Regions from separate parts of the Homo sapiens genome. Here region 1 is linked to region 2. Evidence: fine-mapped expression QTL. A gene starts in region 2. The other region holds a variant in brackets. All regions are shown on one strand. Distances are between the middles of the regions.

Region 1 (16,875 bases), 51 kb before region 2:
ACTCTTCTCATGAATCCTGTTGAAGTCTCACTCACTCTGTTGCCTAGGCCGGTGTGCAGTGGCACCATCTCAGCTCACTGCCAGCTTTGCCTTCTGGGTTCAAGCAATTCTCCTGTCTCAGCCTCCCAAGTAGCTGGGACCACAAGTGCCTGCCACCATGCCCAGCTAACTTTTTGTAGAGATGGGGTTTTGCCATGTTGGCCAGGCTGGTTTTGAACTTTTGAGCTCAAGCGATCCACTCGCCTCAGCCTCCCAAAGTGCTGGGATTACAGGTGTGAGCTACCGCGCCCGGCCTTTTTTTTTCTTTCTTTTTTCTTTTATTAAGACAGGGTCTTGCTCTGTTGCCCAGACTGGAGTGCAGTGGTACAATCTTGGCTCACTGCAGCCTCAACCTCCTGGGCGCAACTCATCCTCCTGCCTTAGCCTCCCAAAATGCTGGGATTACAGGCATGAGCCTCCGTGCCTGGCAGTGGGATCCTCTTTACCTGAACTGCCCAGGGACCTCCATAAGTATCCCTGGCTGGGGGCCGTGGGTCACGCCTGTAATCTCAGCACTTTGGGAGGCTAAGGTAGGAGGATTGCTTGAGCCCAGGAGTTCAAGACCAGCCTGGACAACATAGCAAGACCCTGTCTCTACAAAAAAATACAAAAATTAGTGCATACCTGTGATCCCAGCTACTCAGGAGGCTGAGGCGGGAGAATTGCTTGAGCCCAGGAGGTTGAGGCTGCAGTGAGCCATGATTGCACCACTGCACTCCAGTCTGGGCGATAAAGTGAAACCCCGACTCTTAAAAAAAACGGGCTGGGCACGGTGGCTCACGCCTGCAATCCCAGAACTTTGGGACGCTGAGGCCGGCGGATCACCTGAGGTCAGGAGTTCGAGACCAGCCTGACCAACATGGAGAAAACTCCATCTCTGCTGAAAAAAAAAAATTAGCCAGGTGTGGTGGCACATGCCTATAATCCCAGCTACTCGGGAGGCTGAGGCAGGAGAATCGCTTGAACCTGGGAGGTGGAGGTTGCAGTGAGCCGAGATCGCGCCATTGCGCTCCAGCCTGGGCAATAAGAGTGAAGCTTGGTCTCAAAAAAAAAAAAAAGTATCCCTGGCACCTTCTCACAGACAGAACAGGGAAAAGGAGGGGCGGTTTACATCCCTGTGGAGCACAGCAAACCCACACAATGAGCCTTTCAGGTGTGGGGGGCAGGAGCAGGGCGGGGGCTGTCTCCCAGGGACCATCAGTCGGTTGGCTCAGGGGCTCAGGAGCCCAGGCCCGATGCCAGGAAGCTTCTCACCCCTAAGGAGAGGACACGCAGTCAGTCCGACTGGCAAAGTGGCCGGATCAGCGCCTGGCTGTGCCACCCCACATGGAGTGCCACACGCGGTCACAACAGCCCCATGACGTAGGTCCCAGTATTACTATTTTAGGGAAGACTGTGGTACACGCACCCGGACACACAGTTGCACATATGGCCACACAGGCCTCCACCTCTACTACCCAGACAAGTGCCCCAGTGCGCATCACACATGCACATGGGTGTGTACACAGCCTGCCCAGACACAGCCCTCCACAACACAGGGACCCACCCATGCACACACGCGTGTGCACACACACCAAGCAGACACGGCCCCTACACAACACAGGGACCCACCCATGCACACACGCGTGTGCACACACACCAAGCAGACACAGCCCTCCACAACACAGGGACCCACACATGTACACACTAAGGAAATGTGGAAACACTACGTGACCTCCGGTGGCAAGGCCATGGCTGGAAGCCCTGCAGCCTCTCCGGCTTCCAGGTCCTGATGCCAAGGCTGCCCCTCCCAGAATCCACGAGGAGGTCACCGTCCCCGCTCCGCACCAGGGAGGGGCTCCAGAAGCCCGGAGGCCAGCGCCGAGGTCCCCGCACGTACGCCTGTGTCCCCGGCTCTGGGGAAGGCAACCGTCCCTTAGGGGGCCGGGAACCTGCGCGCCGCCCCGACTCCCGCCCACCCCGGCGGCTCCCGGCGGCTCCCGGCGGCGTCCGGATGTGGCAGCAGCTCGCGGGCCGGGGCTTCCTCTTGCAGCAGCCGCCGCCCGGGAGGCCGGCAGCGCCCCCTGGCGGACTCAGGCAGGAGGCGTCCGGCGAGGCGGGCGCGGGGTAGGCGGGCGCGGGACGGTGCAGCCCGAGGCCTGTCCCTGCAGGTGCAGGAGGGACCCGTCGCTCCCCTGCGCACCGAGGGGGCGACAACCCCTCCCAGAGACCTGCTGCCCGCGGAGCCTCCCCCAGTGACTCGTGCGGTCCCCAAAGGAGAGGCGGGAAGCCGAGTCCTGGAGAAGCCTGGAGACAATGGGCAACAGGGGCATTGGGCCTCCGTCCAGCCCCCGCCAGCGCCCCAGGGTCACACATAGGCCTTTATTTTCTGATCCTGAAAGTGATGCAAGTGCATTTAAATTAACGCAGAAAGCAGTGACAGATAACGACGGGAAAACACACCTACACATCGGGTGTTCGTGGATAACCACTGCTCACCTTTTTTCGCGTTTCTCTTTCTTTGCCCCCTTCACACGTATTTACATATTTGAATCTACTATTTTATACTGGATTTTTTTTTTCTTTTTGAGGTGTAGCTTCACTCTTGTTGCCCAGGCTGGAGTGCAATGGCGCCATCTCGGCTCACTGTAACCTCTGCCTCCTGGGTTCAAGCGATTCTCCTGCCTCAGCCTCCTGAGTAGCTGGGATTACAGGCGTCCGCCGCCACCATGTCCAGCTAATTTCTGTATTTTTAGTAGAGATGGGGTTTCCCCATGTTGGCCGGGCTGATCTCGAACTCCTGACCTCAGGTGATCCACCCTCCTTGGCCTCCCAAAGTGCTGGGATTACAGGCATGAGCCACTGCGCCCGGCCTTATATTGGATTTTAAACATTAAATGGTACAATATTTTCCATTTCACAAAGTTCTTCCTCAGCTAATTTTAAATGACTGCTATTTCACTGAATAAGACACCACACTTTATTTAACTAATCTCTTTTTTTTTTTTGAGAGGGAGTCTTGCAATGTTGCCCAGGCTGGAGTGCAATGGTGTGATCTCGTCTCACCGCAACCTCCGCCTCCTGGGTTCAAGCGATTCTCCTGCCTCAGCCTCCCTAGTAGCTGGGATTACAGGTGCCCGCCACCACGCCCAGCTAATTTTTTGTATTTTTAGTAGACACGGGGTTTCACTGTGTTGGCCAGGCTGGTCTTGAACTCCTGACTTCGTGATCCGCCCGCCTCGGCCTCCCAAAGTGCTGGGATTACAGGCGTGAGCCACCGCGCCTGGCCAACTAATCTCTTAATTGGTGGACATTTGTGTCACTTATGGCTGTATCTTGAGTAGTACCACGCTGGACAGATTGCTTTTCCTAAATACAGTTTCTCAAAGCTGGAATTGCTGGGCTGAGGAGCCACCCCTTCTAAAGGTTCTTGACATTATTGCCAAATTGCTTTATAAAAAGGAAGGGCCAATGTTTGGTCCCATCAGGAATGACTGTCTCCGTACATCCTCAGAGGTAGTGAGTGTTACCGATTCCTTTTAAAAATTGGGGGTTTTGGTTCTCAACTTGATAGACCCATGAGAGTTCAACTTCATGTCTTTGACCACCACGCACGCAGTATGTGGTCCGATACGGCACGTCCACCGTGGATGTTGATGGGGACAGCCCCGTGTGCTCCAGTATGTGGTCCGATACAGCACGTCTGCTGTGGGTTTTGATGGGGGCGCCCCTGTGTGTTCTTTTTTTTTTTTTTTTTTTTTTTTTGAGACGGAGTCTTGCTCTGTCGTCCAGGCTGGAGTGCAGTGGCACAATCTCGGCTCACTGCAAGCTCCGCCTACCAGGTTCACGCCATTCTCCTGCCTCAGCCTCCCGAGTAGCCGGAACCACAGGCACCCACCACCACGCCCGGCTAATTTTTTTGTATTTTTAGTAGAGACGGGGTTTCACCGTGTTAGCCAGGATGGTCTCTATCTCCTGACCTCGTGATCCGCCTTTCTTGGCCTCCCAAAGTGCTGGGATAACAGGCGTGAGCCACCGCGCCCGGCCCCCTGTGTTTTCTTGAGTGCAGGGGGCAGAATCCATCCTGGGGAATTTGAGCAGAAAGGGACATGGTGAGCAGTGTGACAGCTCCCAGCTCCTTGCAGGACTAGAGGAAAGGCCTCCAAGCCCAGCTCTGCACTGGCTAATGAGCTTCCTTCTCTCAGCTTCCCTGGAAACATCTTTCTCTGCACACCCAGGAGACTCCATATCACCGGCTCGTCCTCACCGTGGGCCCAGAACCTGCTGTGCCCTGCCGGCCTGGGGAGGTTGCGTCTCCCTGGCAGAGCTGCATGCGTCCCAGCAGCAAGGAAGGCTGGGGATGTGGGATGTGGGACTGCCGTGCAGAGAGAAGACAGGATTCATGTTGTGGGGAGCTGTCAAAACGTAGAAAAATAGCCCCACTTTTGGGGCTCCCATGAAAGACTGGGGTCTTATTCATATGTTTGAGCCCCTTTGGAATTTGAAATGAAGCCGAGTTCCCTTCCTAACGACACAGAGCTCGCAGAAGCCGCCTCTTCTCTTGGGCGTCCACCGTCAGCTCTTTCTGGACTTTGTTCTTCCTGTATGTGTGCGGCTTCCTGCCGTTATCAAAGTCCAAGAATTTCATCAGTTTCTTATTTTGTTTTATTTTTTAACATTTTATTCATTTTTTTTTAAGATACAAGATCTTGCTATGTTTCTAGGCTGGCCTCAAACTCCGAGGCTTACGTGATCCCCCCACCTCAGCCTCCTGAGTAGCTGGGACCACAGGTGCTGCCACCGCACCCGGCTTCTTGATTATTTTATCATCATCATTATTGATTGAGCAATGGAAATCTGTAACTTATTTGGTGCTTTTTTTGGGTTCTTATTTCTTCAAGATTTGGAAAATTCTTCCCTACGTGCAGATTTGCTGGTGGGTTGAGCGCCTTCTTCCAGTTGGGGATTAAGACATGACTTCCAGTGGTACAGGCCGTAAGGAAACAGCCATCCAGAGAATTCAACAGCTCTTTCTCCGCTCTTCAATACAACATGACCTGTGGTCTTTTGTTCTTTTATTTTTTATTTTACTTTCATTTTTAAATAGAGACGGGGTCTCACTATGTTGCCCAGGCTGGTCTGGAACTCCTGGTCTCAAGTGGTGAGAAACAAACTCATCTGTCCAAACCCAGAAGAAGGACTCGGAGACCCGGAGGAGAGTGAAAGGGAGACTTTCTTTCTTTCTTTTTTTTTTTTGAGACAGAGTCTCGCTCTGTCACCCGGCTGGAGTGCAGTGGCGTAATCTCGGCTCACTGCAACCTCTGCTTCCCGGGTCCAAGCAGTTCTCCTGCCTCAGCCTCCTGAGTAGCTGGGATTACAGGTGCACACCACCACACTCAGTTAATTTTTTTATTTTTAGTAGAGACGGGGTTTCACCATGTTGGTCAGGCTGGTCTTGAACTCCTGACCTTGTGATCTGCCTGCCTCAGCCTCCCAAAGTGCTGGGATTACAGGCATGAGCCACTGCACCTGGCTGAAAGTGAGACTGTTGATGATGGTCTTGCAAGATCGGGTGTCTGATGGGCAGCCACAGCCAGCACAGTTTCAACAAATAATTTATCCCCTAGTGCACAGGTGTCTCCCCGGGTTCCTCACAGGCTGAGTACTCTGGGGTCACAGTCTTCTGGGACGTCACCTATTGGTTGTTGGGCAGGGGCTGTAGGTGTTTTTTTTAGGGGTGTCCTGTTGCATTTTGTTGCAGCCCACAATGCATTGCAATCCCAGTCAGCCCAGGGGCTCTTCAAGTATTTGACTTATGACCTAAGTAGCTGGGCAGGCTGATAAGAACAGACAAAGCCAGCTATTTTGCAGGCTAGTAAACTGTTATCTTAGACTAAACTTCTTTAGTTCAGGTGAGAGCACCTAAGGGCCGGGGGGAAGGGAGGGAGAAGGGGAGGCCGGCAAGCAGGCACTGGCGATCCAGGCAGGGGCCTCGGACCTCCTGTTTCTTCTGTAGTTTGCTGACTTAAGCCGATTCAAGGCACTTTGTCTTGGAAACGGACCACTGTAGACACTGTTGCCTTCACTCCCCGCTTGGCCTCCTTTGTTCTTCTAGGAGAAGATGCCTCGGCACTTTCACGAGTTTGGGGTGTGCACAGATGGGGCTTCTAGTAGGCTCCTGTGCCTTCGAGTGGCTTCCCAGACACCGCCTGGGGTTGTGGACCTGAGCCAGGCCAGTCCTCTCGCTGTCAGAGAAACGGCGTGCACTGCTCAGCTGCTCAGTCCTGGGCTTTGGGGGCTACGTGACATCCATTCCTGTCAAAAATCCATGGCGGCCATAAAGATTCAGCAAATGCACCGACGCTCAAACAGACAAATGTCCCGGCACTTCCTTTTGTGGTTGGGGCTTTTTCTTCTGTTCAGGGAAACATTTGTCTACCCCAAGCTTATAACAATATCCCAAGAATGGGGTTTGATCAGACTTCTATGTACACCAGTCTCACAGACGCCCTCAATAAGTGCTTTTAAAAGTTCTAGCCGGTCGCAGAGGCTCACGCCTGTAATCCCAGCACTTTGGGAGGCCGAGGCAGGCGGATCACGAGGTCAGGAGATCGAGACCATCCTGGATAACGTGGTGAAACCCTGTCTCTACTAAAAATACAAAAAATTAGCCGGGCGTCTTGGCGGGCGCCTGTAGTCCCAGCTACTGAGGAGGCTGAGGCAGGACAGTGGCGTGAACCCGGGAGGCAGAGCTTGCAGTGAGCCGAGATCACGCCACTGCACTCCAGCCTGGGTGGCAGAGCGAGACTCCGTCTCAAAATAAATAAATGAAATAAAATAAAATAAAAGTTCTAATGAAAGCCTGTGTCATAGCTTAATTGACAGGGGTTTTCTTTCAGGACAAGAGGTGCCTGCACCATCCCAAAGCCTCGGCTGCCGGGCCAGTGCTCTCAGACACGAGGCATCAGCTCGTTTCAGTGGAACAAGCTTTCCTCCTCACAAGATGCCAAGAACCCGCGCCACCCACGGGCACAGCAGGGGTTTGGAATGCAGGCATTCCCAGCTAGGTCTGGCGTGAGCTTAAACCACCCGTTGTTAAATCCTCATGAAAAGTCACTTACAAAGTTCTCCTGCATACAGAGTAGTGGAGGGCAGAGGGTGTCTCACAGGCCTGCTGGGCCCGTTGCACCCATACTCCTTCCCTCCCTTCTGTCCAGTCTCCCTCCGTGTCCCAGAGGACACCCCAGCCCTTTGGCCCCCCGCGGCCCAGGTGCAGTGGCCGAAGTCCAGCTCCCTGGGTCTTGCTCCGAGGCCGGCACAGTCTTGACTGGACCAAGAGAGGGTCTGGGGAGTGCATGGCCTTGTCTCTCTAAGCACATCCTAAGGAGTTCTCCTCCCACTTGGGGCCTTGCCCCAGACCCTCCCTCCTGCCCAGGATCACTGCTCCAGGCTGGCCACATTCACCCGATGGGGGCTCTGCCCCTCGCCCCAGGCCTGAGTCCTACTTCATTTATGCGGCTGCTTCAACAATGCAAGGAAGAGATTTGTAATGGGAAAGGTATTTTATTTCTTTTTGAAATTATTTCCAGCTGAATGATGTTAGTAAAAATACAGAGAGAATACAACAAATGACATTTAGTAATTTTTTCTGACTAACCCATTTTAGGGTTGTTTATATACAAAGAAGAATATGAACAAGAACAAATTTAATAAATAGCTGTAGCCTAATACACAACCGAAAGACCGTAACTCCAACAGCAGAGATACCCTGAGAACAGAATAAGGAGGTGGTGCTGAGCGTGTAAAATCCCAGACAACGACCCTCCCTGAGCGAGTGTCCTGAACATGACCACATTCTCGTCGCCGTCTCGGGACCTTCCTGCCGCCTGAGTGCACCGCCTCCCGCCCGGCTGTTGTCACTTGCACCCACAGACCTGCGGCTCACAGTGGGCCTGTCGACAGCCGGAGGCACCGTAAAAAACTGCAGGGAGGAGGCAGTCAACGAGTCGCTCAACTACACAAAATTAATGATGTTAACTAAGAAGCTAAAATAAATATCCTGTTTTCTTTTCTTTTCTTTTCTTCTTTTTTTTTTTTTTTTTGACGGAGTCTCGCTCTGTCACCCAGGCTGGAGTGCAGTGGCGCAATCTCGGCTCACTGCAAGCTCCACCTCCCGGGTTCACGCCATTCTCCTGTCTCAGGCTCCCGAGTAGCTGGGACTACAGGCACCCACCACCACGCCCGGCTAATTTTTGTATTTTTAGTAGAGACAGGGTTTCACTGTGTTAGCCAGGATGGTCTTGATCTCCTGACCTCGTGATCTGTCTGCCTCGGCCTCCCAAAGTGCTGGGATTACAGGCATGAGCCACCG[T/C]GCCCGGCCACTTTCTTTCTTTCTTTTTTTTTTTTTTTAAAAAAACAAAACAACTTTGGGTTTTATTTAAAATGCCCGTGGAGGTGGTTAGCGCCCCATTCTTCTGCTGTAGTTATTTCACCCCGGGAGGGTGTGGGCCTTAGCCATGTGGCCGTGATGGTCGTATCTGAAGTGTGAATACTTCCCCGCGCTATCTTCTAACCTGCGCTGTCTCAGCTTAGTGTGAACGTACGGACCGTTCTCAAATCCTGGTGAAGTCACTGGCAGTTTTTTCCTGCACACAGAGTAGCTGTGCTGTTTTTGAGCTGAGGGCAGTGTCATGCTGGGCTGCATCTGGCACATGGAGAGGACGGGCCAGTCGAGCAGGTGGCCTCCTGGCCGCTCACAGACTCTGCGCCCGCCAGACTGTGAGAGGGGTTCAGGCACGACACTTCCGGAGCTGTCATCTGGAGGAGATTCTCATCATTTTTTCCACCACTTAAAATAAAACCACTCAATGCCTTCTCCAGTGTACTCTCTGGTCTATTTAAAAATAGCAGCGCAAGTCCCACCACTTCTTATTTATAAAGGGAACAGCCAGTGAACATATTTTTACCTCCCGTGTCTGTCATCATGTTCTTGCCACTCATTGCCTCCAATTCCAAATAGGTAAAGAGTGAGGGCCGTGCCGCTGTGCCTGGAGTGGCAGGGGCAGCCACACAGACCTGGGGGTCCCTGAGCTCCCCCAGCTCCAGGGAGGACGCCCCAGGCATGAGCAGGGGCCGCCAACAGGACAAAGAGGCCACTCTGTCAGCCTCTGCTGGACCCCTGAGCTCCCCTCTCATGGGCCTCTCCGTTTGGGTGGCTCCGAGAGGCCAACTCCAGCCCCAACTGCAGGCTCCCAGGACTGCAGGGGCAGGGACTCTGGAGGTCCGTGTGCTTCGTGAGAGAGGGGACCCTGTCCTCCTAGCAGGGGTCCAGCGGCACCACAGCAAGACTTCTGTGGCCAAGTACACGCCATGCTCAGCTCTGCCCCCACCCGCACCCCCGGACCATCCTGTGTGCAGCTGGGCTGCCCCGGGACCCACACGCGCGAGGGGCACCCGGTGCTCAGGAGCCTCCACACACAGCAGCTCGCACTTAGAACCCACACGCCAAGCAGAAACCCCTCGAAGCGGGCTGGGAGCACGGACCCCTGATTTATAGAGGAGGCCCCGGGGGCCCTGTCGGGGGAGCTGTGGGGACCGGCCCCCCAGAGCTCAGCACAGCCCGGCCCTCCTTCCAGACACCAGCACTCGCATGTCCCAGCAGGTGAGGGTGGGTCAAACCTGCTGGATCTGAAGTTAATTGTTCGACTGGAAGGAAACCTGTGCGCTCCCCGGAGCATGACGCCACGCCGCCTCCTTGGCGCTGCAGAGCCAAAGCCACTGGCGTCTGCCGGGATGGACCTTCCCTGGAAGGAGAGACCTCAGCCCCGCGTGGGTAGGACGCGCCTGCTGAACGCCCTCTCAGGGCCGACACTGGAAAACACCTTCCTCTAAAGGAACATCCGAGTCAGAAAACAGGTGCTCGCAGCAGGCACCAAAGCGCCTTTGCGAACGCTTAGGGCTGTTTCAGGAAACCGCTCAGTAGCAAAGGCAGAAGATGCCAAGACACCTTCAAAAAGCAGGAATTAACTTTCCACAGGGAGGGCACCACCAAAAACAAGGGTGCGGGGCTGTAGGGCGACAGGCTGCATCGGTTCACGCTGAAAATCCAGCTGCTCCGGGGCCACTCAGGCAGCCGTGTGGCCTCACGGGTCCGGGTTTCAGAGGCCACCGAGTGGCCTGGGACGATGGATCGCGACACGGAGGTGCATGGCTCCATCATGGGGAAGAATGTGCTTTAAAATAGGTGCATGGAGGAAGAGCCTAAAAAATAGTCCAGAGTAGCAACAAAAACCATCTCGAGGCAATGTGACCACAGGTGGCTTTGATTTCCTTCTTGTGCCTCTAGACAGCATTCAAATATTCCAGCCTGAACATGCATTACCTCAGTACCTGAACAGGGCCGGAGTCGTGGGCCGTCTCGGGCCAGGGCAGGAAACACTTCTATGCTGTTCGGGAGGACGGAGGACAGACAGCGAGGCTCTCAGGTCACCGGCACCAGTGGCACCACCCACAGGGACTGCAGGGAAGGGCGGGCAGGCTCCCGTTCGTTCTCCCAGCACCCAGTTTCCAGACGAAGCCTCCCTGGGATCCTGGCTTCCCACGGCTCTGCACTGTCCCTTTCTCAGAACTTAACGTGGGCATTTCCTGAGGCCTCTTCCTCCGGATGAGCTGGTTTCGGCCTGGGATCCCAGCGTCCCCACACCCTCTGGTGACCACCACATGGCCCAGCAGCCACACAGCACCCGGCACCCACCTGGGCGTCTGAGGCTGGAGGAAGCTCTGCCCTTTCTTTCGAGTCATGGGGGTGGGGCGGTGTGCATCACTTTGGGCCCATGGATGGTGGGTGCCATGCGGCCACGTCAGAGCAGGGCATGGTGGGGTGTGGGCAGGGAGCAGTGGGAGGTGGCCCTGTGAGAGCTGGGGAGGTGTCCCAAAGTGCCAGCATCCTGCAGATCGAAGGGGACGCACACACCGTGCCACTGCGGGAGGTGTGAGCTCCACGCTGCAGGCTGTGTGAGAGAGGGGTGAGCCGGCGCCCCCGAGTGAAGACACAAAGAATCCCGAGGGCCTGGTGAGGCCACAGGCCCGCACCTCCCACCCCCATGGCCTCGTGGCTCTGTGGGGTGACAGGAACCCGACCCACATGTAGCTCAATCCTCCCAAGGTCAGCTTGTGAAGAAGGGAAAGAAAATTATGGAAACAGGCGTCTCTGTAGGGGATGCTCCAAGACGCATTTGGAGGCAGGAAAATGCCTGAAGTCCCTCAATGGGCGGATGTCACAGTGCTGGGCGAGCCACGGTGTGTACTCGGGGCCTCACTTTGGGAGCTCAGACGTGTCGCTGGCCCTGACGCTCATTGGTCTGAAGGACAAATCGAAGGCCCTCTGGTCACGGAAGCTCTGGGCTTTGTACTTGGCCAGGTGCCTGGACCTCCCGCGACGCTCGGGCTCCGATGCCTCCATCCTGTCCTGCAGGGCCCTCTCAGCCCCAGGGTGGTCTGGGGACCCCTCCTGGGCCGGGGCCTGGGGAGTCCCGCAGCCCCCAGCCTCAGGCTTGGGCTCAGTTGGGCTCTTTCCCAGCCCCAGGGGAGAGGTGGCAATGCTCTTGCCCCTGAGGGGGCGGCTTCCTGGGGGTGGGTACCCGGCGCTGGGCTCCCCCAGGCCACTGCCCCCTGACTGTCCACCATCCCTGGGGGCTGGGCTTCTGGACCCCCCACTCCTGCCAGCAGCATCCACTCCCTCAGCTATGCCACTAATGGGCTGCTCCCAGGCCCGAGGCGCCATCCCACTTGTCAAGGCCTGTTCCCGACCCTGTTCCCAAGCCCGTTCCTGAGCCCCTTTCTGGGTCTGCCTCTGAGTCTCTATCTGGGTCTGCTCCCAGCCCTGATCCCGAGCCCGATCCCGAGCCCATTCCTGAGCCCCTTTCTGGGCCTGACCCTGAGCCTCTATGTGGGTCTGCTCCCGACCCTGTTCCTGAGCCCGTTCCTGAGCCCCTTTCTGGGCCTGTTCCCGAGCCCGTTCCTGAGCCCCTTTCTGGGCCTGTTCCCGAGCCCGTTCCTGAGCCCCTTTCTGGGCCTGTTCCCGAGCCCGCTCCTGAGCCCCTTTCTGGGCCTGTTCCCGAGCCCGTTCCTGAGCCCCTTTCTGGGCCTGTTCCCGAGCCCGTTCCTGAGCCCCTTTCTGGGCCTGTTCCCGAGCCCGTTCCTGAGCCCCCTTCTGGGCCTGACCCTGAGCCTCTATCTGGGTCTGCTCCTGAGCCTGTTCCTGGGCCCGTTCCTGAGCCCCTTTCTGGGCCTGACCCTGAACCCGTTCCTGAGCCCCTTTCTGGGTCTGTTCCTGAGCCCATTTCTGGGCCTTTATCTGGGTCTGCCACTGGGCCTGTCCCTGAGCCTCTTCCTGGGCCCATTTCTGAACCTCTCCTTGAACCTGTTTCTGGGCCTGTCCCTGAATCTGCCCCTGAGCCCATTTCTGGGCCTGTCCCTGAACCTGTCCCTGGGCCCCACCCTGAGCTGGTTCCTGTGCCTGCCCCTGGGCCTCTATCTGGGTCTGCCACTGGGCCTGTTCTTGAGCGTGTCCCTGAGCCTGTCCCTGGGCCCAATTCTGAAACTGTTTCTGGGCCTGTCCCTGACTGTGTCCCTGGGTCCCACCCTGAGCCTGTTCCTGTGCCTGCCCCTGGGCCTCTATCTGGGTCTGCCACTGGGCCTGTTCTTGAGCGTGTCCCTGAACCTGTCCCCGGTCCCATTCCTGAACCTGTTTCTGGGCCTGTCCTTGGGCTGCCGGGCTTCCCGGCCCCTCGGGCTCCCCTGGAGGCACAGCTGGGTTCCTGGCAGCCCTGGTGCCCTCTCCCCACGCCGTGCTCCGCCCCCGCTCCTCCCAGGGTCCCTGCAGATGCTGCTGACCTTGGTCACTGCGCTGGCAGGCGCCCCCAACCCCAATGGCCATCCCTTTGTCCCCGGCCAGATCCTGTGCCCACCATGTCTGAGGCTCTTTTGCTGGGTTCAGCACAACCTTCGAGCCCGACGGCGCCACCCTCTTCCCCGCATCCCCGGGCTGGGGGGTCTCCTCCTGTGCCTGGTGACTCTGTTGCCTCCCCAGGTCCGCCTGTGTCAGGGGACGCTCCTGGGATTCACCTGCCTGCGTCCTAGGCTCGGGGACACTGGCCCGGAGCTTTGCCTGTGTGTCACCAGCAGTAGGGGGCAGGTGTGCCTGTAGATGGGGAGGGCCCCGCTGGTGGGTGCCACCTACCCACCCCATGTCCACCTCCGCGGGAGGCACTGCGGGAAGCAGATGGTCAGGCTCCGCCCCACGGGGAAACCTGACGCCCTCCCTGCCCTTTGCCTGTGGGTTCTCAGGAGGCGACGGCGGGAGGCCAGGGCCATAGCTGGGGGACTCTGCCACGCTCCTTGCCTGTGGCCTAGGATGATCAGAAGCAGGAATTCCAGACTCTGTGCTGAAACCCAAAAGGTTTCCTTCCACAGCCACATCCTTTCTGCCTCCTACAGCTGCTGTATGTCTGCTGGCTGCTGATGTGTTTGAAATGTATAATCGGGCCGCCTCTGGGTGCCGGGCGAGGGCCGCAGCATCCTCCGGGTGGCGGGCGAGGGTCGCAATGTCCTCTGGGTGCTGGACGAGGGCCACGCCTCTCAGGAGGCTCCTCCCTGCTGCTCCACTCTTGGGCTCCAAGGATCCCCCAGGGGCCAGGAGGCCGTGGCTGTGAGGGTCTCGAGGGAGAGCCTCTCCTCTGGGGTGGCTTTCGGACAAGGCTCTGCTTCCCCACTGGCCCAGCGTCTCTGGCTCTCCCGCTGTGCGGTCTCCAGGGCTCTGGGTGCTGCCTGGCGCTGGTGCAGGCGTGGCGCGGCTCGCAACGCTCCCTGCAGCTGCCATCGCCCCACAGGCTTTCATACCTGGTTTGGGTGGTTCATTTAATGAGGACAGTGGGTTCTCGCGAACATCATGGCTGGTGATTTCCTCGGCAGCCTTCAGGGGCTGAGAAGACTCTATTAGCAGCGGCCTTCTGCATTCCTCCAGCGCACCGGGCACTGTCATGCCCATCGGGGTGACACCCTCAGGCCCCGTACGCCCCTTGGATGATGCCGCCAGTGACGTGGGGGCTCCTGTTGGGTTTCTCCCAGTCGGGGACGGCACTTGCTGGCTGCTGGAGGCATGGCTGGTGTTTCCCCTCAGAAGGTTTTGTGAGGCTGCAGGATCATTTGTTGCGGAGCCCTTCTTCTGCATTGATATTTCATTAGATTCCGGCAACGGATGCTTCACATCTCTGAGCTCAGAGGTCCTCTCTCCTGAAATATCGTCAGGATTCCTGGGACCGTGTGAATTCTCAAAGCTGCCTTTGTTTTCCTTCCCGCCAGCAGGATCTGTCTGGAGTCTCTGTGTCAGAAGTGTCTCTGGGACACTGTGGTCGGCGCCCACAGCCCCTCTTGCTGCTGCCAGACGCGGAGCTGCCCGTGGCCCCTGCGGCGAAGAGGCGCTGAGTCCCGCCTGCATCCCTGAAAGCTTGCTCAGTTCCACTGGGGCTCGGTGACCCCTTCTGTTCTCAGTCACGGTGGGAAATTCTGTGTGGGCATTTTCAACCACATTCTCTCCTCCACAAATACAAGGTTTGTTTTCACCACTTGACATATTTTGCAGCCTGGTGGGAGGGGCTGGCATTTCATGGACAACTGGAATTTGGACAGTTATCCGTGGAGGCTCCGTGGCAGGCTGTGTTCTCCGAGCAGCCTGGACCGATGGAGCGTTCAGGGGTGGGATGTGCTCCGGCACCTTCTGTTCTGGGAAATACTTCTGGGTGGCAAAGAGGGGGTCTCTCCCTGGGTCTGGGAAGCCTGCTCCTTCCCTTTCATCCTCTGAACTGCAAACAGTCATGGTGATTTCAGGGCCCTCCCCTGCACACTCGCCTGGGGGCCCAGGAGGCCACGTGAGCCTGGCTCCCCTCACCTCCTGGACGCCTCCTGCGGTGCTCTCTGCGGTGGGGTCTGCAGTCCCATCACCTCCGGCTGATCCGGTGCCCCAAGGGCTGGCCGGTCCCAGTGGGGATGATGCAGGCACAAGGCCAGGAAGGACTCCACCTGTGCAGGGAGCACAAGAGAAGGCCAGCGAGGGGACAGCGTGGCCGTCCCTCTGAGCCATCACCTGGGGTGTCACGGGCTTCGAGGGCCTTGGCTGTCTTTGGGGCTCCTCCTCCAGGGGCCCCTTTCCCACTGCTTTGTTCCCACTGGGCCCCGTCTCCCTGGCACTAGGGGGCACGCTGGCTTCTCCTCTGGGTGGACGCCTTGCCTCCGAGTGGCTGATTTTGGTGCAGTGGGACAGCCAGCTCCTGGGGCCACAGACGACGGTGGCGATGCTGAGGGCCGGCAGGGGCTCAGCCGTGCAGGCCAGAAAGCGGGCAGGGGGCATCTTGACGCAGGTGCTGGCCATGGTGGCCGTGTGCAGCACGCGCACCTCCGGCCGGTGCATCCTCTTCCTCTGCAGGTTCCTCTTCTTCCGCTCCTGCGTGTGCAGCCTCAGCGCACTGGCCTCGGAGCACAGGCAGCTGTTCTGCTCGAACTTCTCCCGCAGCTTGGACAGCACCGAGCTCTTGCCCATGATCTTCGGCAAGAGGCCCCTGGCGGCTTTGGGCCGCTCCACAGGGGGCTTCTCGCGTGCTTCTTTCTCCTTCGCCTCCTTCTCCTCGGCGGCCAAGAATATCTTCAGGATGTTTTTCACGGTGCTCTTCCCGGCCGGGTGGCCCCAGCGGGGCTTCTCGCTGAGGCAGGGCTTTGGGGCCGGCTCCTTGGTCTTCTCCAGGAGCTTGTTGATGGTGGCACCCACGAGGCCCCCACCCGGCCCCTGCTTGTCCTTGGAGATCAGCCGGCCCACCTCCCTGGTCCTCTTGAGGTAGCGCTCCCGGCCAGTGCCCAGGAACTTGGCCTGCAGGAGCTGGAAGCGCGTGGGCCGCTGGGTGGCCTCCTGGGTCTGGGGCTGGTGGCTGGGCCTGCTCCCCCCGGCCTCTGTCCCCGGGGGCCGGTCTGCGCGGCCCGTGACGTAGAGCAGCAGGCTGCTGAGGATGGAGTGGGCGGCCGGGTCACAGGCCAGCTTGCCCATCTTCTTCTTCAGGGTTTGGGCGTCCACAGACATGACGTCACTGCAGGTCTTGCTGCTCTTCCGGCTGCAGAGAAAAAGGAATCATCACCTACTTCATCATCATTTTTCTCCAAGATGACTCTATAGAACATTTATCATGGGGCAATCCCACCTTTTCAGGGGCCCCAAAAGTCTGGTAGGGAGAAAAAGAGATTAGGAGCCAGGAGCTGTGGCTTCTGGGCTGTCTCTGCTGTTAATTCGGGGTTGGCAGGGATGCCAAAGCTTTTCTGGGTCACTGTTTCCTGTTAAATGGCAGGAACTTCTGACACACGCTCCTCCTAAGGGCATTGAGGAGTTGACATTGAACAGTTTAGTGAAAGCGTTTGGAAAACCACTTTGCATATGCAACATATTAAAAGAAAATTTTAACAAACATACTTTGCTTGTACAGTAGGTAAAAAAGCACATATAAAGAAGTGTCTATTCTCTGTGTGGACTGTGTATGTCTCTACCTTTAAGTATGAAAGATAAAATTAACAGCATATTTAAATTCTGCCATGATCCCAGGGACCTGGGTCCCTACAGCAGAGACTGAAGATTCAGCAAACCGCTCAGGCTTGGGGTGGGCGGAGAAGGCAGAAAGAGTTTCCTCACAAGCTCCTGGGCAGGAACCAGCACTGCAGTGGGCAGTGCCCACCAGGAGCAGGGGAGGAGGGGGCTGCAGAGAGGAAGGGAGGAGGGGGCTGCAGAGAGGAGGGAAAGATGGGGCTACTGAAAGGAGGGGA
Region 2 (12,117 bases):
TGCCAGAAACCCAGGTGCTGCAGGGACAGCTGCCACCAAGCAGCATCCCCAGCCCCACAAGCAGTGTTCCGGAAACAAGGGTGGGCTCGAGGCCCTGAAAGACCCTGGGGCACGAGGGTGAAGGAGCTGGACACAGCAGACACCAGCCCTATGCCCAGCACGCGGGAGGCCCAGACGTCCTCCCACAGCAAGGGCTAGTTCTTATTTGCCATATTCCCTGATAAGGCTCAGTGAGGTTATGTGTCTTGGCCAAAGCCAGAGCTGACAAAGGTGTTTGCCTGCAAAGCCCGAGCATTTCTGTGATTAAGTAACCCGCAGTGTGTGGATGGAGTCCACACAGCCTCTAAAATCAGAGCCCTGGTGCCTGGCCATGCCAGGACAGGCTGTGGCAGGCGGATGCCCACCAGGTGGGGCCGGCGAGGGCGCCCCTCCCAACGGCCACTTTAACACCCAGCAACTTGTTTTCATTTTGTACTAAAACTGCACTCTGGGCTTGCGGGTCAGCCCCGGGAGACGCCACTGCTCCCTTTTCCTTGGTGATGAATTCCCCACCTTTGGGGAGGGGAGGGGTGGGAATGAATGGGGAGAGGGAGGCGAAGATGGAGGCTTGGCCCACCCTCCATGGGGCAGAAATGGCACTTGGAAGCAAAAGACCTTCCTGCTGGTGGCTGGGGCCTTTTTCAGCCGCATCAGAGCCAGATGTCCTAGCATGGATGGGTTGGTGAGATTAGGAAGGGCACTTGGCAAAGTCACTCCTCCTCCAGGACATGAAACCTCTGTAGCTGCAAACCCCTGGCGAGAGCATACAGGGCCCCCATGGCTGCAAACCCCTGGAGAGAGCACGCGCGTGTAGGGACCATGGCTGCAAACCCCTGGAGAGAGCACGCACGTGTAGGGACCATGGCTGCAAACCCCTGGAGAGAGTGCACAGGATCCTGAGGCTGCACACCCCCCAGAGAGAGTGCTTGGGGCCCAGCGGCTGCAAACCCCACAGAGAGAGCGTGCAGGGCCCGGCGGCTGCAAACCTCCTCACCTCCTACCACAGAGAGAGTACGCAGGGCCCCACAGCTGCAGGCCCCCCCTCCCCCCTCCCCCCCAGAGAGCACGCAGGGCCCGCAGCTGCAAACCCTCCAGAGAAAACAAGCAGGGCCCCTTGGCTGTGAACCCCCTAGAGAGCGCTCAGGGCCCTGCAGCTGCAAACCCCCCAGAGAGAGTGCACAGGGCCCAGTGGCTGTGAACCTCCCAGAGAGAGCACTCAGGGCCCCATGGCTGTGAACCCCCCAGAGAGAGAGGGCTCCCGTGGCTGCAAACCCCCGGAGAAGTGCTCAGGACAAGGACTGTATGTTGTGTCCTCCTACCACCAGTTCCCTGACCCGGCCCAGCAGAGGCCTCTGAAGAGAGGGGCAGTCCTGGGAGGCGTGGCCGGCTGGCCTGTGCACAGTGTTGTCTACATGCACGGTGTTGTCATATGGGCACGGCGTTGTCTATACTCACAGCATTGTCTACTCTCACGGTGTTGTCTACATGCACAGTGTTGTCTTATGTGCACAGTGTTATCCACATGCACAGTGTTGCCAACACACCTGGTGTCTACATGCGCAGTGTTGTATGTGCATGGTGTTGTCTACACACATGGTATTGTCTGTCCTGCATGTATGATATTGTCATAAATGCATAGCATTGCGCTGTGTAAACACAGGGTGTTTACATGCACCGTGTTGTCATACAGGCATGGCTTTGTCTATATGCACAGTATTGTCTACACGCACAGTGTTGTCTACATGCACGGTGTTGTGTGTGCATGGTGTCTACATGCACGGTGTGTGTGCATGGTGTCTACAGTCACGGTGTTGTGTGTGCATGGTGTCTACATGCAAGTTGTATGTGCATGGTGTCTACACTCACGGTGTTGTGTGTGCATGGTGTCTACATGCACGGTGTTGTGTGTGCATGGTGTCTACATGCACGGTGTTGTGTGTGTATGGTGTCTACATGCACGGTGTTGTGTGTGCATGGTGTCTACATGCATGGTGTGTGTGCATGGTGTCTACAGTCACGGTGTTGTGTGTGCATGGTGTCTACATGCAAGTTGTATGTGCATGGCGTCTACACTCACGGTGTTGTGTGTGCATGGCGTCTACACGCACGGTGTTGTGTGTGCATGGCGTCTACACGCACGGTGTTGTGTGTGCATGGCGTCTACACGCACGGTGTTGTGTGTGCATGGCGTCTACACGCACGGTGTTGTGTGTGCATGGCGTCTACACGCACGGTGTTGTGTGTGCATGGCGTCTACACTCACGGTGTTGTGTGTGTATGGCGTCTACATGCAAGGTGTTGTGTGTGCATGGCGTCTACATGCACGGTGTTGTGTGTGCATGGTGTCTACACTCATGGTGGTGTGTGTGTATGGTGTCTACATGCACGGTGTTGTGTGTGCATGGTGTCTACACTCATGGTGTTGTGTGTGCATGGTGTCTACACTCACGGTGTTTTGTGTGCATGGTGTCTACATGCACATTGTATGTGTATGGTGTCTACACACATGTTGTCTGCACACATGGTGTTGTGTGCATGCACAGTATTGTTTTACATGACGCCATGTTCATCACCCCAGTTCTGAGTCAGGGAGGAGAGAGAATGTGGCAAGACTGTGGTTTGGGAGACACGAGTCCTGCAGTCTCATAGGAGAGGTGTGAGGGCTGCATTCCTGCAGGAATTAAGGTCACCTTCGCCTGCACCCGAAACCCCTGGATGGGGGTACAGCTGCGTGGCTTTGTCCAGGCTGTGTCTAAACCCAGTGTGTGCCCCTCACAGTCACCGGCACAGTGGATCCACAAACAGCCTTTCTCAACTCAGTCCTGGGTTAACAAGCCTAGCCCTTCCTGAGTCCCCTAAAAGGATTCATTTTATTCTGGAATTAGACATGAAATGTCTGTATTCAACTGAAATTTAGCCTTTTCAAAGCAAACAGAAGCCATAAAACAAAATGGCACAAACAGCATTGTCTTTTCAGGTTAGAATTTAAGCGAGAAACAGATTTTCAAAGCTGCTACCCTTGGGCTTCTCCCCGGGTCTCTTTCCTTTGGGACACTCCACTCCTGTCTCCTGTCTTCCCTGTCTGGTCTCCTGAAAGACAAATCAGTTTCTAAAGCTGCCTGAGGGGCCGGGTGCAGTGGCTCACACCTGTAATCCCAGCACTTTGGGAGGCTGGGATGGGCAGATCATAAGGTCAGGAGTTCGAGACCAGCCTGGGCAACATAGTGAAACCCCCGTCTCTACTAAAAATACAAAGTTAGCCCAGCCTCTCAGGAGGCTGAGGCAGGAGAATCGCTTGAACTCAGGAGGTGGAGGTTGCAGTGAGCCGAGATCGCGCCACTGTACTCCAGCCCGGGCAAAAGAGTGAGACTATGTCCCAAAAAAAAAAAAAAAAAAAAAAAAAATGGTGCCTGAGTCTCCCAACCCATGTCTCAATAAAGAAAAGGCAAAATACTAACATCCAGTGATCTTGTAGCAAAATGTCAACTGTTTCCAAACGTTTTCTGCCATGAGCTGAAGTGCCACTCCCAGTTATCAGGGCCCCGGGAGAGGCTGAGAAGGTGCTGGCCCTGTGCCCTGGAGGCTGTGGCCAGGTGACACCTCCCGCCATCCTGCTGGGCCCTGAAGTTGGCTGAGTGAGCCTCAGGGCAGAGACATGTCAGATGTGCCTTCGGCCACACGGGCCTGCACCAACTTCCCACACTGGCCTAAGTGCTTCCTCACACTTTGCTGGTTGCTCCGTTTAATCCTCTGTGACCTTGTGAGGGAGGAAGGCCCTGGGAGGGAAGCCACTTCCCCAGTTTTCCCAGGGAGTGGGGGTAGGGAGCTGGGAATGGCCAGCTGCATACCCGAGCAATGGCCGAGCTCTCTGTGCGAGGCCGCCCCTCCCCAGGCCTGGCACACACACACACCTGCTAAACGCTTGCCAAGTGACTTGGTGATAATGCGCTGGCAACATGGGCTTGTCGTTTCAGGGCCATGGATGCCACCTCTCCTATGTGTCTTGTAGAGCGCTAGACACGGCTACTTCCTGGTTCAGAGTCTGCTCTCGTGCCCTGTTCAGAGAGGCTCACCCGGAAGGAGGCAGCCCCAGTCAGAGAGGCTCACCCGGAAGGAGGCAGCCCCAGTCAGAGAGGCTCACCCGGAAGGAGGCAGCCCCAGTCAGAGAGGCTCACCGGGAAGGAGGGACCCTGTTCAGAGAGACACACCCGGAAGGAGTGAGCCCCGGTCAGAGAGGCTCACCCGGAAGGAGGGAGCCCTGTTCAGAGAGACACACCCGGAAGGAGGGACCCTGTTCAGAGAGGCTCACCCGGAAGGAGGCAGCCCTGTTCAGAGAGACACACCTGGAAGGAGTGAGCCCCGTTCAGAGAGACACACCCGGAAGGAGGCAGCCCGGTTCAGAGAGGCTCACCCAGAAGGAGACAGCCCTGTTCAGAGGCTCACCCGGAAGGAGGGAGCCCCGTTCAGAGAGACACACCCGGAAGGAGGCAGCCCGGTTCAGAGAGGCTCACCCGGAAGGAGGGAGCCACACAGGCTGCCCCGACCCTCAGACCTGTGCTCACTCTAGCAGCAGAGCCAGGGTTTGCCAGACCACACAGCCCCGTGGCTCGTGGGGTGAAGGACTTTTCAGTGCAGCTTACTTAAAGCTGCCAAACGTAGTTCCATTTGTAAAAGTCTGCCTGTCTTTGGAAAGCATGCTGAAGAGCCCCTGCACACTGCAATTGTTAGGATACCTGCAGGCCACCGTGATCTCAGCAGTCAGGGAGGATGCTTACGAGCACAGGGGCCAGATTCTCTGGTTCCCGTCCAAGCTCTGCCACTCGCTGGGCTGTGTGGCACTGGGCAAGCGCCTGAACCTCTCTGTATGTCAATTTTTTCTCCTGTAAGATTGTGATAAAATCAGCCTCCACGGTGATGTGAGGAGCATGTGTGGAGGATAACATGCGTGAAGCAGCTGGAACAATGCCTGGTACAGAAGTGCTGTGGAGTCAGCACTCACCATTGTCGTTTTGTAGAGATGGAGTCTTGCTATGTTTCCTAGGCTGATCTAGAACTCCTGGGCTCAGGCAATCTGCCCACCGTGGCCTCCCACAATGCTGGGATTGCAGACGTGAGCCACTGTGCCCAGCCCTCACCATTGTTAACACAGCTTAAAGACCCCCTTCCATAGGCTACAATTTGTTATTTAAAGAACAAAGATAAACTTAAGTGAAATTTCGACTTTGATTTTTAGTGAGTTGAAAAAAATCTGCTTGCTTTGGTTTCTAGAGGGGTAAGCTGTAGGGACCAGCCCCACAGGGTCGGTGGGTCTCTCCCTGTGTGCAGTGACGAGAGAGTGTAGAAATAAAGACACAAGACAAGAGATAAGAGAAAAGGCAGCTGGGCCCGGGGGACCACTACTACCAATGCACGGAGACCGGTAGTGGCCCCGAATGTCTGGCTGCACTGTTATTTATTGGATACAAGGCAGAAGGGGCAGGGTAAAGAATGCGAGTCACCTCCAATGGTAGGTAAGGTCATGTGGGTCACGTGTCCACTGGACAGGGGGCCCTTCCCTGCCTGGCAGCCGAGGCAGAGAGGGAGAGGAGACAGAGAGAAAGACAGCTTATGCCATTATTTCTGCATATCAGGGACTATTAGTACTGATAGTACTAATTTTTCACTAATTTACTACTGCTATCTAGAAGGCAGAGCCAGGTGTACAGGATGGAACATGAAGGCAGACTAGGAGTGTGACCACTGAAGCACAGCATCACAGGGAGACGGTTAGGCCTCCGGATAACTGCGGGCGAGCCTGACTCATGTCAGGCCCTCCACAAGAGGTGGAAGAGCAGTCTTCTCTAAACTCCCCTGGGGAAAGGGAGACCCCCCCCCCCTTCCTGGTCTGCTAAGTAGCAGGTGTTGTTCCTTGCCACCTTTTGCTACTGCTGGACCACGATCCGCCTGGTAACGGGCGTCTTCCCAGACGCTGGCGTCACAGCTAGACCAAGGAGCCATCTGGTGGCCCTGTCCGGGCATAACAGAAGGCTCGCACTCTTGTCTTCTGGTCACACCTCACTATGTCCCCTCAGCTCCTATCTCTGTATGGCCTGGTTTTTCCTAGGCTATGATTATAGAGCGAGGATTATCATAATATTGGAATAAAAAGTAATTGCTACAAACTAATGATTAATGATATTCATATATAATCATATCTAAGATCTATATCTGGTATAACTATTCTTGTTTTATTATACTGGAACAGCTCGTGTCCTCTGTCTCTTGCCTCAGTGCCTGGGTGGCTTGCCGCCCACAGTAAGCAATTCCAGGGGTGATCTTGGATGCGTATTTTCTCATGACCCACAAACTAGACGCTGCAGCAGCACAGTGAACCCTCCCTTCCAGTCCACAGCTGAGGACCCTGAGAGCTTAGAGCAAACTTACTTCCTCCTTAAGAATAGCGCCCCATGGTGGCTCACGCCTGTCATCCCAGCACTTTGGGAAGCTGAGGTGGGTGGATCACTTGAGGTCAGGAGTTCGAGACCAGCCTGGACAACGTGGTGAAACCCCGTCTCTACTAAAAATACAAAAATCAGCCGGGCGTGGTGGTGGGCACCTGTAGCCCCAGCTACTCAGGAGGCTGAGGCAGGAGAATCACTTGAACCTGGGAGGTGGAGGTTGCAGTGAGCTGAGATCACGCCACTGCACTCCAGCCTGGGCGATGGAGAAAGACTCCGTCTCAAAAAACAAACAAAAAACAGTGCCCTAAACGTCCGTAACCCTTTTAACTGTGTGAATTTCGTGTCCTGTTGGGCCGATCTCCGTCGGTGCACTTTTGGAGTGTCCTGTGCCGCTGCCCTCCCTGCGGGCCTGGCAGGACCAGACCCACAGCCATGGACGCTGCCATTTACAAAACGCCCACCAAGTGCTACCAGAAATGGGACATGCAGAGCTGGTATGAGCGCACACACGGCATCAGACGCCCAGAGGAAGCCAAACTCAAGAGTGAGCTCCAGCCGTCTACGGTGAAAACAAGCCGGAGCTGTGTCCCACAGGTGTCTGTGTGTGGGGTGCACCTGTTCTGGGCTGCGGGGCACAAGCATGGGGTTGCTGGTCCTAAGGGCACACGAGTGGCCGCCTGGAAAACCAGAAGCAGGAGCTCCTGGACGCCAAGGCTGTGAACAGTCGGACGCCTCCCCGTCTCCAGCAAGCCGGGAGCCTTATCTTATCGCCGGCGCTTCAGCTCTCCCGTTATTTAGGGACCGGCCACAGGCTCGATGGCATTCCTCTGCTGTGAGCACAGAACTAAACTGGGCACGTCCATGGCAGATGAACAGAATGGTGGAGTGAACGCATAAGTGAGATTTCATTGACTTAGCTGCAGCCCTCAGATTTTAATTCTGCCATGATAAACAGCACCCACGGGGTTTTGAAGAGCAAATGCCTCGTAGGAAAGCTGGACTGCATGTCTGTGCACCTGCCATTTCCCTGAAATTCATGCAAAAGCTTGATCCTAAAATCAATTTGCTACTTAAAGGTATTTTAAGAAGCTTTGTCTCCAATCTCGTCCAATCAAGTTTATGTCATTTTCTTAGAACACATTTGTGTATGGGCAACTCTCCAAGCTGAACCATTTTGGGAGATGATATTCTAACTTTAATTCATTGGAATTTAGAACTAATCCCCAAACAGTATTAATGGGTTCACATTTCAAACTGGCTTATTTTACATCCCTTTGTAATGAATTCAGAACAAGAAGGCTTAATCTCTGCAGCGAGAAGTGAGCCCTCACCCTACTCCCACCAGCACGGCCGAGAGAGGCTTCACTGGCTTTAACTCTATTAGAAACAGAAGGTGCTAGGCCTAGTTAACGCTTTACAAATACAAGTGAAAAGTCACGTTTAAAAACTGAATCTTAATAACTGCAAAGTAAAGTAATACTGTCACCCTCAGAGAAACCACAGGAGAAACGTGATCTGCCGCATATCAAATTTGAGGGACACTCAGATTAAATTGCCACTTTTAGCAGCGGTATCAGGTAACACCATCCGCTGAAGGACCGCACTGCCTTCAAAGCTCTCGGAGGCTTACTGGGAGAACTCGAGCAGCCAGTGTTCCCTCCAGCCCGCACACCGGAGCGCGGTGGGCCCAGCCTACCTGTGGTGAGGGCCTCGGCGGTTGCGATGTGCATGATGGTGTTGTCACTCACGGGCCATTCTCCTGGCGAGAGTACGAGGTGGTCCAGGCCCCCGGAACGTTGCAGCTCCTCCTGGATCTTCATGCCTACAGTGCTGTTCTCCTTGCAGACATTTCTGTAGCCAAGAGCATCGCCGACGCTCCCCAGCAACATCGCAGCCTTAAATTTCTCCATCCCAGGAGGCAGCTCCTCTTCCCCAACAGCTGCGGAGCGTCCTGGCCTTTGTCTCCTCCTCAGCCCGCCTGACTTTTATAGTGGTCACTGTGTCACTGTCAGGAGCGTCCTCTGATGGCCAGGCGCTCCTTGTCTATCTCTGCAGGTGGCACCAATGAGAGGACCTTTCTGTCCCCCACGTGGGAGGTGTCAGTTTTCTTCTGCGTCTGGACAGGCACCAGCTCCTCAGCAGAGGAGCCTGCTAGCTTCTGCCGGCAGCCGCAGCACATTCAGAGCGTTGACAGAGCAGGGGCTCCTCTCGCTGTCCCTGGAAGGAGTGCGCACACTTCCCCGTGTGTGGCGTGGGGTGATGCGGGAGCAGATGTGTGCAGGCGTGCCTGTCACTGCCGCCCGCTGCGGGGCGTGCCCTCACCCCTCGGGCAACAACCCATCTGCTGTCTCTACAGTTCTGCCTTTCCTGGACATTTCAAATACAATGTGTGGCCTTCGGTGTCTGGCTTCCTTCACTCAACATAATGTTGAGATTAATCTGTGACATGCGGTTTTATCATTTAGAAAACTTTTCGATTATGAAATGTGTTTTTGATAGAAAACTTTTAAAAAATGCAGTGTAGAGGGAACAAAGTCTATCTAGCTCCTGTGTGAACAATGACGGTGTCTTCTCAGCATGCGGTGTTTAACGGCTCCCAAATAATTGGACTGCACTGAGGGGGAAAGTCGTCAGCAAACCGCAGGCTTCACTAGAACCTCCCATCCGGCCCTCGGTCAGCTCAGTGTATTTACATCATCCCTGCTAGCTCATGAAAAGAATATTAAAAAATATGGAGACGGGGGGTGAGGCAGAATGCACACAGCCAGGGTTCCTGGTTTGAAATAAATTAGGAAAACAGTCCATCTCCCGACCCCACCCCAGGACAGTTCTCCGCAGAGGCCGGGAGCCCAGCAGGGCTGTGTCTCTCCCGTCTCCTTCCTCGGGGCCTGGTTTCCATCAGACCCAGGGGAAGCAAAGAGTTACACCTGGACTGAAGAAATGCGTCTGATAAAAACTCTCGTAGTGTACAGCGAGACAGTAGGAAGCATTTAACCGCCTGGCGTTATATCAGCACTTGTTAAAACGGAGGATCTCAAGCAGTGAGTTCACCTCACCCTCCACTGTCTGCTGGTGGAGGCAGCCATCAGCACAGTCATGCCAGCTAGCATGATCCTGAGATTCAGAAACAAACTTCAAAACCAGCATGCAGGCCGGGCGCGGTGGCTCATGGCTGTAATCCCAGCACTTTGGGAGGCCGAGGCGGGCGGATCCCCTGAGCTCAGGATTTTGAGGCCAGCCTGACCAATATGATGAAACCCCGTCTCTACTAAAAATACAAAAATTAGCCGGGCATGGTGGTGGGCACCTGTAATCCCAGCTACTTGGGAGGCTGAGATAGGAGGATCACTTGAACCTAGGAGGCAGAGGTTGCAGTGAGCCGAGATCACGCCATTGCACTCCAGCCTGGGCAACAAGAGCAAAACTCTGTCTCAGAAACAAACAAACAAACAAACAAAACTCCAAAACAAAAAACAGCATGCACGCAGGGTCCCTATCCAAACAAGACAGACAGGAGGGGCGGCCCTTCGTTCAAACTCTCACCTGTTTTAGGCACAACTGCACTGTGGGGCCGAAGCGTGTGCTGCTGAGGGGATTAACACAGCCCGCTCGCTGAGCGCTTCAGTTCGCAGGCGGCGGAAACCTTTGCCAAGAGCACTAGCTGGCTCCCTCAGCAAACAGGACGGGATAAGGTTAGCTCGTTTATCCAACAAATATTTGCAGAGCCCCTACTTTGTACCTGAAACTGTGGACACAGCAACAAGGATCAGAAGAAAGTTTATTCTTGGCCCCAAGAAGCCTGAGGTCTAAAATGGATATAAACTTCAAGCGAAAATAACACAATGACATGTACAATGTCACTGAGAGGAGCTGGCGTTGTTGATTCCGGAACGCTGGCAGGTGCACCGTGAATCGGCAGGTAGCACATGATCCTCAGACCCCCGTGCTTGGCCGTTTGCCTCCGATAAGGGACGGTTTCCAGCAGTTTGTGCTGGCACACATGACCTCCTGCCCCGACACACTCCCGTAAATCCTGCCTATTGTGAGATCTCTCATTCCTCACATGAGCCACCCCATCAGGTGCACGGTGCACCGCTGAGAGGCAACGCAATGACAGAAGGTACCTGAGGACCTGGTTACCTGGCCAGGGCTGGCGGGCCACACACGGGGGCAGGGGCTTGCCCGCTGGTTGCTAGCTGGGGGCTGTTCTCTCATCCTGGGACAATGACGTGGATGCTGACACCTATAGGCAGACATCCCTGCAGCTGAGGAGAATCGAAAGGAAACCACGCCCGAGAAAAACCAATTTAATGCTTCTGTTCTCAGCATTTCACAGCATGCAGGACTCAAATGGATACAACAGAAGAAAAAAACCCACAATTTTTGGAAAAGCCTTTGTCCAATGATTAATATTTTGATATCTATTGACAATCCCTTAGAACTTTAAATCTCAAAAACAAAAAAGTACTGTGGATCTCCATAGTTTATACAGAATTATGTGAATTCTATAAACTTTTCTGAACAAAACAATTACATGTCAAGAATCCATGAAGCCTGGAAGATACGCTCACGTTTTTGAGGTTTGTATTAATGCCAGTTTTTATTGTATTAGACAAATGCTCTCTGAGAATCGAAGACTTCTAAAGGTAGACAGGCCCAGTTTCCCATTAGAGTTCTGGAAGCAGAGCCTGGGGAAGGTCTGTCACTTGCCCATCACTGGACCAGCCAGAAGCCAGCGGGGGCCAGGCGGGGTCTGCAGGCTGCAGGTCCCTTCCAGTCCTGTCCCTGCTGCCCTCTGTGACCATCTCTGCTAAGAAACATCGACAGTTCGTCCTGCAGCCTCCAAGCACACTAACCTCAGCCATCAGATGTTCCTGAAGCCCAGGGTAAGTCCTGTTCTCAGAAGCCAACCCAGCTGCTTGTCTGGGCCATGCTCTCTCACACCGCAGCTAGGTCATCTGCGGCGACTCTCCTCTGTGCTGGGCAGCAGCTCCAGCTGGTCCACGTCCTGCACAGTGCTGCAGGGGGGCAGCAAGGCACGCCTGTGACATGAGAGTCTCGGCACGTGAGGTAGGGTCAACAGTGATGTCCACAACTCAATACCAGCCCTCCACACCTCGGCAGCACTCGTGGGTCCTCCTCAACCAGGCGGACACGAGAAACAGATGATAACATGGTGCAAGGACAGACTTCAGCTCACCAATCAGATGAAGGTTTTGGGGTTGGGTTTTTTCAGACAACGATGTACATTTTAGCTTCCAAATGTGCACAGGGGCACAAAGGTCTGGATGCTGGGCACTACGGGTACCACAAGAGGATGGAAAGAACCAGCTCATTCGGTTTTATTGTATGTATGTATGTATTTATTTTGAGACAGAATCTCACTCTGTCGTCCAGGCTGGAGTGCAGTGGCGCGATCTCGACTCACTGTAACCTCCGTCTCCTGAGTTCAAGCGAATCTCCTGCCTCAGCCTCCTGAGTAGCTGGGATTACAGGCATGTGCCACCATGCCCGGCTAATTTTTGTATTTTTAGTAGAGACAGGGTTTCACCATGTTGGCCAGGCTGGTCTCAAACTCCTGACCTCAGGTGATCCACCTGCCTCGGCCTCCCAAAATGCTGGGATTACAGGTGTGAGC

Alleles and levels. Alleles are on the strand shown, and positions count from the first base shown. SD is a standard deviation of normalised expression in the study named.
For the expression in prefrontal cortex of the gene that starts at base 8,440 in region 2, allele C in region 1 goes with a lower level than allele T (moderate effect, 0.47 SD a copy in CommonMind).

The links. PIP is the estimated chance that this variant, and not a neighbour inherited with it, causes the effect.
Region 1: its variant is fine-mapped to the expression of ADPRHL1 in prefrontal cortex (CommonMind, PIP 0.95).

Annotation. Positions count from the first base shown.
Region 1 is chr13:113,392,046-113,408,920 of GRCh38, forward strand. ADPRHL1 (ADP-ribosylhydrolase like 1) reads right to left here. Exons shown (of 8, transcript NM_001394807.1): 8 at 7,566-16,175. The coding sequence ends at 11,333. Among named protein-coding and RNA genes, the nearest start is that of GRTP1, 36 kb to the left of the region's middle. RefSeq lists enhancers at 1,418-1,959, 13,335-14,129, 15,247-15,932 and silencers at 1,877-2,226, 2,237-2,346, 5,989-6,283. The variant T/C (reference allele first, on the strand shown) is at 8,390.
Region 2 is chr13:113,445,049-113,457,165 of GRCh38, forward strand. ADPRHL1 (ADP-ribosylhydrolase like 1) reads right to left here and starts at 8,440. Exons shown (of 8, transcript NM_001394807.1): 1 at 8,176-8,440. The coding sequence starts at 8,389. It overlaps DCUN1D2 (defective in cullin neddylation 1 domain containing 2), which reads right to left. Exons shown (of 7, transcript NM_001014283.2): 7 at 10,771-12,117. RefSeq lists enhancers at 842-1,783, 4,111-4,470, 6,472-6,973, 10,970-11,900 and a silencer at 1,043-1,142.